Linked DNA regions of Homo sapiens: region 2 is linked to region 1. The links come from fine-mapping of genetic effects on gene expression. Tissue or cell type: whole blood. Region 1 holds a variant in brackets; the other region holds the start of a gene. All regions are shown on one strand. Distances are from middle to middle.

Region 1 (8,339 bases):
GATCCTCCCACCTTGCCCTACCAAAGTGCTGGGATTACAGGTGTGAGCCACTGTGCCTGGCCTGATGCTTTCTAAGAGTACTTGTTTAGATATTTTGTGTCCCTAGATTTGTCTGATGATTAGGCTGCAGTTATGGATTTTTGGGAAGAATACCGCAGAGGTGATGTGCCCTTCTCATGGTGTCCTATCAGGAGCTACCTGATGTCAGTATGTCCTGTTACTGGCAAAGTTAACCTTAATCATTTGGTTAAGGTAGCCTCTGCCAGGTTTCTCCACCAAGTTACTATTTTTCCTTTTCTGTACTCTGTTAAGGCAAATTATTGCTTTTTAAATTTTGATGTACCTCAATATGCATGGGAGATACATAGCTTTGCAGCTCCCTCAATCTTAATTGTAATAATAATAGTAATAACAATAACTAGCACTTGCTCCGCCTGCATAGTTCTAAACACATGTGCCCATTTAATCCTCATGACACCCTGTGAAGCAGGCACTTTATGCTCATTTTATAGCCGAGAAGACTGAGGTACAGAGTACCTTGCCCAAGGCCTAATAACTAGTAAGTGATGGAGCCAGATCTTTTTTTTTTTTTTTTTTTTTTTTTGAGACGGAGTCTTGTTCTCTCTTGCCCAGGCTAGAGTACAGTGACATGATCTCGGCTCACTGCAGCCTCCACATCCCGGGTTCAAGCAATTCTCCTGTCTCAGCCCCCCGAGTAGCTGGGACTACAGGCATGCACCACCACGCCTGGCTTATTTTTGTATTTTCAGTAGAGACAGGGTTTGACCATGTTGGCCAGGCTGGTCTCAAACACCTGACCTCAGGTGATCCACCTACCTCTGCCTCCCAGAGTGCTGGGATTACAGGCATGAGCCACTGCACCCAGCCTGGAGCCAGCTCTTCACTTCGCCTGAGTTGAAGGGCTGACTTTAACATGGGCCATATGGTTGTCGTCAGAGCTTAGGATGGGGACGCTCTCATTCTTTGCCAGAGAAAACAAATGCTTCCTATATTTAATGCTTCTCTCTTGTTTTTTCTTTAAGACATTTTTTTGGTTTGTTTTTCCTTCCAGGAATATATCTTGTGTGACTAAAGATTTTAGTAAGCTATATGTGGCAATCATACCATATTAAAATCTTGGGGAGAAATCCAAGAAACTTTTGGAAACATTAAGGATCTATTTTTGGTCTTCTTTTCAGAAATAAGACTGAAGGTAGGGCAGAATATTCAGCATAGAAAAGTGCTGTGGTAGAAGAAATACTCAGTGAGTGACACTGCGCCTTTTTCTCCTGGGATGTTATCAGCCACTTCTACCAGGGGTGTCTCTGTTTGTCTGTATGTGTCTAACCCTGCCATGTTCGCCTTTCTTGACCACACTAATGACTTTTCTATGACACAGTCAAATGTATCTCTGAATAGCCTGACTTGGGGTAATAACTGTGGTTTACGTGATGACTTGGTCTCTGTGAGCCCCCTATTCTAGTAGCAGTGGAGCCACTGAAGGTCAGGCAGTGTGGGTGGACATTTGTCCATCTTCCTGTGACTCACTCAGCCGCCTGCCTTTCTGAGGGGAAAGAGCTGCAGGTGCAAAGCTCTAATACATCCCTTCCCTTCTCTGTCTAATTCTATTATGTATATTGCATATCCCCCAAATCCTTGAAATTACTCAGCTACGTGTCTTATTATATCTAGTCTGCCAAGCTGTCTAGGTATCAGTACAGTTTTTTTCTATGTCTATATTTATTTTCCGAAAATGAAATCCTACTGTATTTCTTTGTAGCTTCTTTTCTCATTTGACAATATAGCTGAAGAAGTTTCCATGTCATATGGCATTTATCTACAATGTTGTTTGGGTACCTGCCTATTATCAATAGCTTGGCTATATTATGATTGGTGGGGAATGTGGCTTGTTTCCCTCTATCCCTCTTCAGCATCCAGGACAGGATGTTCTTGCAGTCACCGAATGTTAGGAAGCTCAGAGTGCTCTCAGGCATCATCTGATTAATCTTTTCTTTTGCACATAGCATAGTTGAGGATAAGTCAGTGCAATTTTTAAAAATAAAGCTTTTTTTTTTTTTAATGTCTATTGTATGTCTGGCTGGAAGTGCCAGGGTCCACAGCTTAAACAAGACACTGCTTATCTTCCAAAGCCTTCCCAGAGAGGCATATACACACAAACTGTAGGATTTATTTCCTTAGGAAGGCAACTGTTTAGAATAAGTCTGATGCTAGCCTACAATATATAGAACACTTTACAAATGTAGAAAATTACTTGGGGAATTGATAATAGAGGTCAGGTTTACAGGTGTCTGGATCTGGCCTCAGAAGTCAGAGGGCTAAGGATTAGTCTTTTTCTCAGATATGGTTTTCTACATATTGATTATAGACAAAATATAAAGTAGAAGAAAATGTAAGGAAGAAAGTGAAAGTGGCCCATTTCTACTGCCAGAAATAGCCACTGTTTTATTTTGGTATAATTTTTCCTTTCCTCCCTCCGTTCTCCTTCCTCTTCCATACTGCAAATATGTTCATAATCCTGCATTTTTCATGTAACACTGTATCAAGGATTTTTAAATGTTACTTACAGAAAAGGACTTTGCTACTTTGATAAGGAAAAATATCTAGTTTTAATTTGTATTCCCTTAATATTTTAGGGAGGATTAACGTTCGTTTATGTTGACTGTCTATTCATGTTTATCCATAATTCTACCTTTCTATAAAATTGGACATGTTACTAAAGCAAGCCTCTGATTTCAGATGTCCTAAACGATGCTATATTTGATGAAGATCATGATGAGATGGTGATTGTGAAGGACATAGACATGTTTTCCATGTGTGAGCATCACTTGGTTCCATTTGTTGGAAAGGTAAGGTTCTCTTTGTTGTTTCCCAGCAATTTAAAACATAGTGAAAGTTTTTCAATTAGAATAATTATATTTAAAATTTTTAGCTGCCAATTGCTGATATCTCAGGTATTTACAATTATACATATATGGTTATTCTTTATTAACCTGACTAATAACTTGAAACTTAAAAAACAAAACCAAAGTAGCAGAAGGCTCTCAGGATAAGCCTTTCATGTTAAATACCAGGTTCATAGGTTAAAATAATGAGGTTTAAGTAGCATCTCTCTCTCTCTTTTTTTTTTTTTGTAGCTACTACAGGCTCTGAAAACCTTTAACCTTTATTTATTTATTATTAGCATCCCAATCTAGAGATGCCCTTTATTTTAACTTGAATAATGTTTGATCCAAGATAGATATGTATGTATGGCATGTCATGAGCAACAATAATTGCAGAATTTCTTGTGACAGAGGTTATGGTATTTGTGGATTTGTTTCCATTCCTTTCTATATTAGGAAAAGTGAATCTAATGCATTAGATTCCTCAGCACCTCTGTGAATTTCTTTTGTCAGAAATGTTTAGTCCTAGTCTTATGAAACTTTAGATCTAATCTAGTTTACAGGAAATCCAGAGGCTGAATGGAACAAATCCAGAAGGTGGGGCACTCTGCTGAACAGCTGGCCTATTCTCTTTTCAATAGAGAATATTATGGGTGGGAGCACTATTTTAGGACAAAAGGGACTTAAGAGGTATAACCAAATGCAGTGTAAATACAAATGTGTGACTCTCCATTGGATTCCTGTTTAAACAAACCAAAAGTAAAACATTTGAGACAATTGGAGGAATTTAAATCTGAGTTAGTTATTAGATGTTGTCTAGGAATGACTACTTAACATACCTTTGAGAACATGTGGTATAGAACAAAGAGTTGTCCCATTTCCCTACCCCCATCATAATTTTATTTAATTTTGACTCTTTATTAATAATCTTTAAACAGAAGACTTACAAGAAGCAGTGTTATGAATACTTATATACCCATCAACTAAAGTTAAAGTGTTAACATTTGCTTCATTTTTGTCTTTGTTAAAGTATTGTATCTTTTCACTTTTTTATGGAAATAATATATAGATAGAAAATGCATAAAACTTAAGGGTGTTCCTTACCACTTCAGAGATCAAGAACTAGAATAGGCTGGCACGGTGGTTCATGCCTGTAATCCCAGCACTTTGGAAGGCTGAGGTAGGTGGATTGCTTGAACCCAGGAGTTCAAGACCAGCCTGGGCAACATGGTGAGACCCCATCTCTACCAAGATAAAAATAAAAATTACCTGGGCATGGTGGTGCATGCCTGTACTGCCAGCTACTCGGGAGGCTGAGATGGGAGGATGGCTTGAGTCCAAGAGGCAGGGGTTGCAGTGAGCCGAGATTGCGCCACTATATCCTAGCCTGGGCAACAGAGCCAGACTGCCAGACCCTGTCAAACAAACAAACAAACAAACAACAACGAAACCCCCACAACTACAATATGTGTAGCATCCTGGAAGCTCACCTCATTTCTTTTCTCTTCTTAATCCCTAATCCATCCTTTGTATCAGTTTATCAACTTATAACCCTATGGATTCGTTTTCTTGTTTTTCAACTATATGTAAGTGGAAAGATTCTACGATATGTACTCTTTGTGTCTGGCCTCTCTTGTTCTACATAGTCGGATTCATTGATGTCATTGCCTGTCATTGTAGTTTATTTTCATTGTTATATCTTATTCCATTGTACAAATATACCACAATTTATCTATTCTGCTCTTGGTGGAC[C/T]TTTGTATTGTTGCCTCTTTTTTTTTTTTTTTTTTTTTTGCTATTACAAACAATACTGCTGTCAATACTTTTTTGGAGTACATGTGCATGCTTTTTTTTTTTTTTTTTTTTTTTTTTGAGACGGAGTCTCGCTCTGTCGCCCAGGCTAGATTGCAGTGGTGTGATCTCGGCTCACTGCAAGCTCCACCTCCCGGGTTCACGCCATTCTCTCACCTCAGCCTCCTGAGTAGCTGGGACTACAGGCGCCTGCCACCATGCTGGCTAATTTTGTTGTTGTATTTTTAGTAGAGAAGGGGTTTCACGGTGTTAGCCAGGATGGTCTTGATCTCCTGACCTCGTGATCCGCCCGCCTTGGCCTCCCAAAGTGCTGGGATTACAGGCGTGAGCCACCGCACCTGGCCCTAAAATATTTTCTTACTTATCCACAGCAGCACTATCACAAAATTAACAATAATTCTTAAATAGTGTCTAATAACGAATTCATATTTAAATTTCTCCAATTGTCTCAAATGTTTACTCTTGGTTTGTTTAAACAGGAATCCAAGGGAGAGTCACACATTTGTATTTACATTGCATTTGGTTATACCTGTTAAGTCCCTTTTGTTCTAAAATAGTGCTCCCACCCATAACATTCTCTACTGAAAAGAAAATAGGCCAGCTGTTCAGCAGAGTGCCCCACCTTCCAGATTTGTTTCCTTCAGCCTCTGGATTTCCTATAAACTAGATTAGATCTAAAGTTTCATAAGACTAGGGCTAAACATTTCTGATAAAAGTAGTTCGTAAGGGCTGGGCACGGTGGCTTACGTCAGTAATCTCAACACTTTGGGAGGCCAAGGCAGGTGGTGGATGTATCGCTTTGAGCTCAGGAGTTTGAGACCAACCTAGGCAACATGGTAAAACCCTGTCTCTACCAAAAAAAAAAAAACCAACCAAAAAAAAAAAAAACGAAAACCAATCAACCAAACAGACAAACAAAAAAACAGGCAAAAATTAGCTAGCATGGTGGCATGCACCTGTGGTCTCAGCTACTCGGGAGGGTGAGGTTGGAGAATCGCTTGAACCCAGGAGGTCGAGGCTGCAGTGAGCCGAGATCACACCACTGCACTCCAGCCTGGCAAGAGAGTGAATCCGTGTCCAAAAAAAAAAAAAAAAAAAAAAAGAGTAGTGCTTCATAAGGGTGCTGAAGACTTCATATTATATCACATCAGGGCCGAGTGAGGTGGCTCATGCCTGTAATCCCAGCGACTTGGGAAGTCAAGGTGGGAGGATAGCTTCAGGTCAATAGTTCAAGACCAGCAAGTGAGACTGTCTCTACCACAAAATAAATTTTTTTTTAAAATTAATTGGGCATGGTGGGTGCATACCTGTAGTCCTAGCTACTTTTTGGGAGTCTGAGGCAGGAAGATTGCTTGAGCTCAGGAGTTTCAGGTTACAGTGAACTATGATCATGCCACTGTACCCCAACCTGGGTGACAGAACAAGACCTTGTCTCTAAAAAGAAAAGAAGAGAAAGCAATCAGAAAACCCAGATACATCACATCAGAAGCCATATCGTATCTGGAAATCCTGCAATTGATAATGAAGGAATCTTTGAAAGGGAATCTATTGGTGAGCAAATTAGGCACAGAAAGCCTGTGACTTGTTCAAGAGGATAGAGAGAGTTAGTGGCTTGGCTGCAGCCAGATCCAAGGCACTGATTCTGTACTCAGCCTGTCACCATTTTATCCTGTTACTTTCTGCTATTACTTCCTCAGTGTTTGTGTTTTTGCTACCTTTGTTTTAAAAATATATTATTTAGTGATTTTTTTTTTTTTTTTGAGACAGTTTCGCTCTTGTTGCCTAGGCTGGAGTGCAGTGGTGCGATCTCGGCTCACTGCAACCTCCGCCTCCCAGGTTCAAGCAATTCTTCTGCTTCAGCCTCTCGAATAGCTGGGATTACAGGCACCCGCCACCACGCCTGGCTAATTTTTGTATTTTTAGTAGAGATGGGGTCTCACCATGTTGGCCAGGCTGGTCTTGAACTCCTGACCTCAGGCAATCCACCCAAAATGTTGGAATTACAGGTGTGAGCCACCACTCCTGGCCTATCTAGTGATTTTGTGAAATGGACATTTAAATTACCTAGGATCTTAAGACCAAAAATAGTATAAACAATGAACAAATTCCGTGTCTGCATGGAAATGTAAAAATTTCAGACAGCATAGAAGACCTTGGTTCATGGGAAAGTTTTAACTCTCTAATTTTTCTTTGAAATCCTCAATGTTCAGGTGCTATTTTACTTTTTCCTCCTGCCAACCAGGAAGGCAATGAGGTGGACTTCTCAAATTCCTAAAGCATAGTGCCAATGGATGGGGGAAAAAATCACTAAGTACTACTAGATCAATTATGTAAATAGTAAGTGAACAATGAAAACAGTGTTAGCAAACCATGATGCCGTTGAGTCTCTAATTTTATATTCGGTTAATTAATTGCCTACAAGTGACCATTTACTCTATTAATCTTTTCAGAGAACTAATGTTTTTCGTATGTAGTATTTGGCCCCAAAAGAGTAACTTTTATATTTGATATTAATTGGTGCCATTTAAGATAACAGAAATGGCCTGGCTGTATATTGGGTCCTTTAAAACTTAGTTCTTAGGGTGCAGGTTCTTGCCAAGCCATGGTGGTAGCAGTGCCCTTTTTCTCCAGTTAGGAAGATGGGGCCGGGCGTGGTGGCTCACGCCTGTAATCCCAACTCTTTGGGAGGCCGAGGCGGGCAGATCACAAGGTCAGGAGATCGAAACCATCCTGGCTAACACGGTGAAACACCATCTCTACTAAAAATACAAAAATTAGCTGGGTGTGGTGGCAGGCGCCTGTAGTCCCGGCTACTCAGGAGGCTAAGGCAGGGGAATTGCTTGAACCTTGGAGGCGGAGCTTGCAGTGAGCCAAGACTGGGCCACTGTACTCCAGCCTGGGCGACAGAGTGAGACTCCATCTCAAAAAAAAAAAAAAAAAAAAGGAAGATGGTGCACTCTCTAGCAGCTTAGAAACCAGGAAGCCAAGCACAAAAGGGTGTGGAGACCTTCTGTGCTGCAGGGCTTTGCGGTGGGATCTTAAGGCTGTGAGGTGGGATCTTAAGGCTGCTGTGATGTGTGGAATGGCAATACTTATGCTTACAGTTTTTGCCATTTAAAGGAGGCTTTCCTGTATACATTTTAGTGTTGCTATGAGATCATTTGCCTTTCCTTGAGAATGTTTCTCCTCCATAAAGAAGAAACTTTCAGATTTGTGTCAAGAGTTCAACTTCACAGGTAAGTGTCAGGGCCATGCAATTGACTCTTGAACAACATGAATTTGAACTGCATGGGTCCACTTAGACATGGCTCTTTTTCAAGCAAACACTGATCAAAAATTCTACAGTATTTGCAGGATACAAAACCTGTATAGATGGAGGGGCAACTTTTCATATATGCAGGTTCTGCAGGGCCGACTGCGGGACTTGAGTATGCAGGATTTGGGTATACACAGGGGTCCTGGAAGCAATCTCCCGCATTTACCAACGGACAACTGTACAAGTTTGTTATTTGATTAATAGACTCATACTTATATATTTTGCTTTTACTGCATTTATGTAATTTTAAAAATACATATATAAATGTTTCATTTTCTAAGTCTTAACAGTTCCAGATGTTTTCAAGGTAA
Region 2 (8,339 bases), 38 kb before region 1:
TCCCACAAGTTGAAGGCTCAGTCCCCAACACTGGCCCCTCCTTTCCACCACTCACAAGTCTGGGCCTCTGGAACTTTTGATTGACTGGCTTCAAGTTGGGGTTTCCACAACCCCCTCTTTGGGTTCAATTAATTTGCTAGAGTGACTCAAAGAACTCAGGGAAACACTTACGTTTACCAGTTTATTATGAAGGATATTACAAAAGATACAGATGAAAAGATGCATAGGGTGAGGTATGGGGTAAGAGGTATGGAGTTTCCATGCCCTCCCTGGGCACACCACCCTCCAGGAACCTCCACATATTCAGCTGTCCAAAACCTCCCTGAGCCCTGCCGTCTGGGCCTTTTATGTTCGTTGTATAGGCATGATTGAAGCATGGACAGCCGTGTCAAGGTGTGATTGACCTCTCTGTGCAGCCATGCTTCCTCCAGGGTATGAGGCAGGACCCTGTTTGCAATGAGGGTTTATGATCCGTAATCAGAAAGGCGGGAGATGATTAGAGTCCTGCCTTTAGTGAGTGGAAGGGGAGCAGAAGGTGAGAGAGAGAGAGAGAGAGAGAGAGAGAGAGATTGATTCTATTTTCTGAGGCCTAAAGTGCCCCAACATTGTAACAAAAGACTGTGAGTTATGAACCAGGTACTATGGCTGAAAACCTACATATACATGTATCATCATATCACACTTGGCAAACAACTCTTTGTACATTTCTGTAGCACTGCAGTGTTCAGTCTCTGACTTGGTGTGTCTTTCTCATCTGCCTCTTTGTTCTGCTGCTGTCCTAGAAATTAGAGACTTTAAAAAATTCCTTGGCTTTTTGGTAGAAAGAAACTCCCAGACTGGGTCCAAGCTGAAAATGAATCCCTTACTGGGTGAAAAACATGGATGCGGTAACAATTCCTGGCTGTAAATGCTCATAATATTACTGTTGAACCATTTTATGCTAATAAATTATCTGGGACCTACTTCCCTTTTGGTTTATTCCTCTTTTTTTCTCCTGTTGCTACTTATAACCATCCTTGTCAACTATCTACATTTTACTATTAAATTATTCATATAATGTTGGTGATTTCAAAGTTTTCTTGTATTATTTTTGGGCATTTGGCCGAAAGGCACTGCCTCCATTTTACAAGTTAGCATGTATCCAGAGGCCCTGTCCTGCAACAAAGGTGCAGGTGCCTCAGTGGCAATACGTGTAAGAAAATGTTAATTTTTAGGGTAAAAATTTCATTAGAAACTGTCTTTGTGGAATACAATATTAGTTAATCTTTACACATGTTTTTAAAGGAAGACGAAAGATTGCCACTAAAAATAAATTCGTACTGAAAGCATCTCTATCTACTCTCTCCATTTTTAAAGTACCTCACTTAGTATCTTTGTTTTCATTTGTTAAATGCAAGGTCATCCTTTGAATGTTGTCTTCAACTATGCTTGAAATAGCTTGAGACCCAGCAGATAATTCTGACCAGGAGGTATCAGCAGACAGTGGGCAGCACAGTTAGAGGAAAAAAATGTTGCAGGGCCCCACTCCCAATAAAAACCTACAATAAAAAATTTAAAAATTTTAATAAAGAGGAAAATGACAAAGAGGTTTTCCAAAGGATGTTCATATTCTCTATTTAAAAACCCCACTGGGCCGGGTACGGTGGCTCAGGCCTATAATCCTGAGCCCTGGAGTTCGAGACCAGCTTTGGCAACATGGTGAAACCTTATCTCTACCAAAAATACAAAAATTAGCCAGTCTCATAACCCGCTCTTAAATAAATAGATTAAAATTTAAAAATAAATAAATAAATAAATAAATAAATAAATAAATAACCCCACTGATATGAACATTTCTTCCATTTTGGAGTAAAGGTGCCTACAAGGCTAGGCAATGTCCATATTTCTTTCCTGAATGTTTCCAACGGGGCTGCGCCTAGAGCAGATGTATCATAAATACTAATTACTTATTATAATGACCAAGCTACATTGTTAGCATAGAATAATTCCACAGGCTTCCCTATTGGTTTGTTTGATCCTAAGCCTATTAATACCTGCTTCTATGTCAGAAAATCTACATTAGGCCAGGCATGGTGGCTCACACCTGTAATCCCAGCACTTTGGGAGGCCGAGGCAGGTGGATCACCTGAGGTCAGGAGTTCGAGACCAGCCTGGCCAACATGGCAAAACCCCACCTCTCCTAAAAATACAAAAATTTAGCCGGGCATGGTGGCAGGTGCCTGTAATCCCAGCTACTCAGGAGGCTGAGGCAGGAGAATCGTTTGAACCCAGGAGGCGGAGGATGAAGTGAGCCTCAAAAAAAAAAAAAGAAAAAAAATATTATTTTGATACATGTTTTAAAGCTCACCTTCGGCATTATGAGATAATCCCTCAAGTGAGGAAAAAGGTCCATTTATTAATCTCAAAGAAAACAGTTACAGCAGATGTCACTGGTTAAGAGTTCAGTTGGTGAATAGCATTTCACAATTTGTACCAACATCTGGGGAAAGACGCTTTGCATGGAACTGTAAAACAATTGAGCACCAAATCTGCACAACTGCGTTTCTAGAAAATGCGATGGGTTTTATAGAGATGAGGTCTTGCTATGTTTTCCAGGCTGGTCTCGAACTCTTGGCCTCAAGCGATCCTCCCGCCTCGGTCTCCCCAAGCGCCGGGAGTACAGGCGTGAGCCACCGACGGAAATGGATTTTAAGTGAAAGTCCTATCTTCGTTTGCAAATCAATTTTTCCAGGATCAAAGTTCTAGCAACCATAAATCCTATCCTTCTAGACATAGGGACCCACATAAGGGCCACTTGATGTGACACTTGCCCCGACAGCGGTGCCACCTGGCCCCTAGGTGGCAGGTGCGTTTTTAACTAAACCCAAGAGTCTGAAGTCACATTATTCTCTTGCCTTGAAAGCTTAAGAGTTGGTTCCTAATCGGTGGCTTAACTCGGTCTCTCTCCAGGCAAGGCCACCTGTTTGCTGATCTTTCACAGGGCGAGGGGACCGGAGCCCTTCAATGCAGCGCCCTCTTGGCCTGAAGAGGGGGCGACTGGGCGCCCAGACCGCGTCTTTCTCACTGAGATCCCAGCTCCTGGACGACTGCCTCTTTTCGGGTTCGGCTCATTCCGCAATAAGTGGAGGGGTCCCGCCTGATCCTAGGGGCCGGCGCCCTTTTCCTTCCCTCCCTGCGCTTGCGAACCCCTCCGGGCGTCTCCGGAGCCGCGACCCCTGCTGGGGACCCCGGGGGCGGGAGGCCGAGGGGCGCGGCGAGGGCCGTGACGCGAGGCGGGGCCGGCCAATGGGAGCGCTCCGCGGCGCAGGCTGAGCCGCCGGGCCATAAAAAGGAGGCGCGGCCGGGCTTTCCAGCCTGTGGCCGCTCCCGGCTCGGAGTGTGATCTAAGCAGGTTGCGTACCTTCCTCAGGTGACTCCGGCCACAGCCCATTGTCCGCGGCCACCGGCGGAGTTTAGCCGCAGACCTCGAAGCGCCCCGGGGTCCTTCCCGAACGGCAGCGGCTGCGGCGGGTCCATGGAGAAGGGCCCTGTGCGGGCACCGGCGGAGAAGCCGCGGGGCGCCAGGTGCAGCAATGGGTTCCCCGAGCGGGATCCGCCGCGGCCCGGGCCCAGCAGGCCGGCGGAGAAGCCCCCGCGGCCCGAGGCCAAGAGCGCGCAGCCCGCGGACGGCTGGAAGGGCGAGCGGCCCCGCAGCGAGGAGGATAACGAGCTGAACCTCCCTAACCTGGCAGCCGCCTACTCGTCCATCCTGAGCTCGCTGGGCGAGAACCCCCAGCGGCAAGGGCTGCTCAAGACGCCCTGGAGGGCGGCCTCGGCCATGCAGTTCTTCACCAAGGGCTACCAGGAGACCATCTCAGGTCAGTGCGCCCGCGGGCTGCTAGAGCGTGCGGGCGGCGGGGGCGGTGCTTGCAGGAAACGCGCGCCGGCTCCAGGAAGTTTCCGGAGTTGCCTCACTTTTGGCGCAGGAAGCCGGGCGCTGTCACCTCCGAACCCGCCCTAGCCTGCCGCCCTGCCGAGGCCCTGCGTGGGGCACAGTCGGGGCTTCCTGGGTGGCAGCGACCTCTCAGCCCCGGAACTCGCTGCAGCCGCCTTCCAGGGGCCCTTCCCGCTCCCAGCGCGCAGCCCTCCTAGAACGCCCCGGGTGGGCGTGGACGGGAGCCCGGAGCCCTCTCGCCTGAGCGCCCAGCGCGGGATTCTCGGGGTACCTGCGGTTCCAAACTTGCCCACGATAAGGATCACCTGGGCACTTGCTGCGGCGACGGCTTCCTGGGTAGTTCCTTATTGAGATCCCATTGTCAGGGTGTGTATCTGGATTGAAGCCTCGGCGCGATCCTTCCCCGAAACCTCGGGGACCTGCATTCCCACTGATTTGCCAGGGGATCGGAGTCTTAGAGTTGTGCTTTTTTTTTTGTCCACCTCAAGTTTACTCCAGTTCAGGACATTTACAAAATTCGGCACAATTTTGGGCACGGGCTTCCCCGGAGTTTGAGGTGTGAGGTTGATTGGGTGAGTTTGCTGCTGAAATCTGTTTCCTCCCCCCACCCCCAACCCCGCAAAAAGCAGTAAAGCTACTCCGGGATTCGGAGGGCTCCGTGGGTTCCAGGACTCAGTCTCATCCCCGCACCCTCCCACCCTAAAATAAAGCCGGGTTGACCCGGTGCTGTTAGCGTCTGAGGCGTGTCGGCTTTTCACCCAGAGGGTGGGGATGCAATCAGTGTGGGTAGGATGCAAGATGGGGTGATGGAGAGTGGAAAATGGGGACTTTGCTGCCTGTTGGCCAGAGAAGCAGTATTGGTCTGTGTTTAAAAAAATAAAGCTTCTGGCTTCTACAGCTGGGACCAAAGACATTATTTTCCAGTCTACACCTTCCGTGTGTCTTGGTGACATTTATTTATTTGCCCTAAGAAGCATTCTACCGTTCACTGTTTTTTGAAAGAAAAACAGTGCGCTGGAAAGGCAATCTCCCTGCCCCAGTTATTTCTCTGAAGGAGTGTAGAGCGATTCCACCAAATAGACCCTGGGAAAAAGAAAGTTATTTTTTGCCCAGTCTTCCACACCCCAAAGGAAGGGTGGGAAATCAGAATGTGAAAGAGACGGGGCCCCAAAAGGAAATGATGCTACACTCTAAAACCGGCAGTGACTTCTAGTTCTGTTTCCAAATTCACTTTTTTTTACCCCTCAATTGCAAAAGTTTGGAATCTCAGAAGAGATTTCAAAATACAAAGACTGAAAAATAAACTTTCAGTTTTCTGTGGGATCAGCTCTTTGGAGGTCTAGGGCTTTAAATTTGTGTGTGTGTGTGTGTGTGTGTGTGTGTGTGTGTGTGTGTGTGAGATATTTCACAATGTAATGAAATGTCTTCTTAAGGCCTTACTCATTTTGCCCCTTGCAGACACAGAAAGTGGTTTACTTCACAGCATCGGCCAGGCTTTGGGAATCCTCCCTTAAAGAGAATTCATAGGACAGTGTTCTGTAATCTAGCATGGATCTAATTACCCAAAGAGAGAGGAATTTCTGACCCTGAGACAGGTCACAGAATTATCTAAAGTGACTCACAGATTTACTTGAGAAATGGTTAGCTGAAATATCTCATGAGCGAAGATTCATTTAAAGAGGATTAATAACTGCAAAGAACACATCATTCCACATTAGAAAACTGTTCTGGTTGGCCGAGCTCGGTGCTCACGCCTGTAATCCCAGCACTTTGGGAGGCCGAGGTGGGCGGATCACCTGAGGTCAGGAGTTCAAGACCAGCCCGGTCAACATGGCGAAACCCCGTCTCTACTAAAGATACAAAAAAATTAGCCGGGTGTGATGGCGGGCGCCTGTAGTCCCAGCTACTCGGGAGGCTGAGGCAGGAGAATCACTTGAACCCAGGAGGAGGAGGTTGCAGTGAGCCGAGATTGCACCACTGCACTCCAGCCTGGACGACAGAGGGAGACTCTGTCTCCAGAAAAAACAAAAAAAACAAAAAAACTGTTCTGGTCAAGTTTTACTATTTAAAAAGTCCATGGGCCGGGCGCGGTGGCTCACACCTGTAATCCCAGCACTTTGGGAGGCCGAGGCGGGCGGATCACCTGAGGTCAGGAGTTCGAGACCAGCCTGGCCAACATGGGAAAACCCATTCTCTACCAAAAATACAAAAATTAGCCGGGCATGGTGTCAGGTGCCTGTAATCCCAGCTACTCAGGAAGCTGAGGTAGGAGAATCATTTGAACCCTGGAGGCGGAGGTTGCAGTGAGCCGAGATCGCACCATTACACTCCAGCCTGGGCAACAAGAACTAAACTCCATTTCAAAAAAAAAAAAAGTCCATGGATGTAGAGACACTGCAAGATTAGTAGTTGTCAGGGACTGGCGAGAAGAGGGGGATGGGTAGTGATTGTTTAATGAGTATGGAGCTTCCTTTGGAGCTTCCTTTTGGAGTCATGAAAATGTTCTGGAACTAGAGAGTGGTGATAGTTGCACAATATTGTGAATGCCACTGGATTGTAACTTCAAGATGGCTAAAAATGACCAATTTTATATATATTTTACCACAATATAAAGACAGGTTTTGTGGCGTGCCTGCAGTCCCAGCTACTAGGGAGGCTGAGGCAGGAGGATAGTTGTTGCTCAGGAGAACAGCCTGGGCAACGTGGGGAGACCCTGTTTCAGAAAAGAAAAGTCCATGGAGCGGACCATTTAAGATTATTATTATTATGTTTATTTTCATGTTTTTGAGACAGGGTTTGGCTCTGCTGCCTAGGCTGGAGTGCAGTGGCGCAATCTCGGCTCACTGCAGTCTCACTCTGCTGGACTCAAGTGATCCCACCTCAGCCTCCTGAATAGCTGGAACTACAGGCTTGTGCCACCATGCCCTGCTAATTTTTGTATTTTTGATAGAGACGGGTTTTTGCCATGTTGCCCGGGCTGGTCTTGAACTCCTGAGCTCAAGGGATCTGCCTGCCTTGGCTTCCCAGAGTGCTAGGATTACAGGTGTGAGCCACCATACCCAGCCCATTTAAGATTATTATAAGCCATTAATTGAATATAATCATGCATTACATTATGATGTTTCCTTCAATGATGGACCACATGTATGAAGGTGGTTTATAAGATTACAATGGAGCTGAAAAATTCACATTGTCTGGTGATGTCTTGGTGATCCTGACCTGTGTAGGCCTAGAGTAATGTGTTTGTTTGTGTCTTAGTTTTTTCCTCTCGTCTCCCCCATGTCTTAGTTTTTAACAAAATTTAAAAATTAAGAAAATTGGGCCAGGCATGGTGGCTCACACCTGTAATCCCAGCACTTTGGGAGGCCAAGGTGGGCGGATTACTTGAGGTTAGGAGTTAGAAAGAGACCAGCCTGGCCAACATGTTGAAACCCCATCTCTACTAAACATGTAAAAATTAGCCAGATGTGGTGGCGCATACCTGTAGTCACAGCTACTTGGAAGGCTGAGGCAGGAGAATCACTTGAACCCAGAAGGTGGAGGTTGCAGTGAGCCGAGATTGCACCAATGCACTGCAGCCTGGTTGACAGAGTGAGACTCCGTCTCAACAGTAAATAAATAAATAAAAATAAAAATTAAAATTAAAAATAGAAAAAGGTATAGAACAAGGATATAAAATATTTTTGCACAGCTGTACAATGTGTTTTTGTTTTAAGCTGTGTTATTACAAAAGAGTCAAAGTTTTAAATACATTAAGCTGAAATTATTGAAGAAAAAATATGTTTAGTGTAGCCCAAGTGTACAGTGTTTATAAAGTTTACAGTAGTGTACAGTAATGTCCTAGGCCTTCACATTCACTTACCATGCATTCACTGACTCACCCAGAGCAACTTCCAATCCTGCAAGCTCCTTTCATGGTAAGTGCCCTACACAGACATACCATCTTAAGTCTTTTCTACTATATTTTTACTGTACCTTTTCTATGTTTAGATGTCTTTCTAAAATTATTATTATTTGTATTTTAAATATAGAGGCAGGGTCTCACTGTTTTGCCCAGGCTGGTCTCGAACTCCTGGGCTCAAGTGATCCTCTCCTCTTGGTCTCCCAAAGTGCTGGGATTACAGGCATGAGCTATCCCACCTGGCCTACATATCTTTAAATACACAAATACCATTGTGTTACAGTTGCCTGCAGCATTCATTACAGTAACATGCCATACAGGTTTGTAGCCTAGGAATAATAGGCTCTACCGTGTAGCCTAGGTGTGTAATAGGCTATCTCATCTAGGTTTGTGTTAGCACTCTCTTCCTTCAGTGTTTGCGATATGAAACTGCATTTCTCAGGTGTTTCTCAGAATGTATCCCCATTGTTAAGCAATGCATGACCGTACTTTTTAATGGGTTAA

Evidence for each region.
Region 2: it holds the start of GCH1, and the variant in region 1 is fine-mapped to the expression of GCH1 in whole blood (TOPMed, PIP above 0.99).

Annotation. Positions count from the first base shown.
Region 1 is chr14:54,859,855-54,868,193 of GRCh38, reverse strand. GCH1 (GTP cyclohydrolase 1) reads left to right here. Exons shown (of 6, transcript NM_000161.3): 2 at 2,758-2,867. Among named protein-coding and RNA genes, the nearest start is that of MIR4308, 14 kb to the left of the region's middle. The variant C/T (reference allele first, on the strand shown) is at 4,656.
Region 2 is chr14:54,897,839-54,906,177 of GRCh38, reverse strand. GCH1 (GTP cyclohydrolase 1) reads left to right here and starts at 3,352. Exons shown (of 6, transcript NM_000161.3): 1 at 3,352-3,857. The coding sequence starts at 3,515. RefSeq lists silencers at 2,998-3,637, 4,048-4,097, 4,108-4,167 and an enhancer at 8,267-8,339.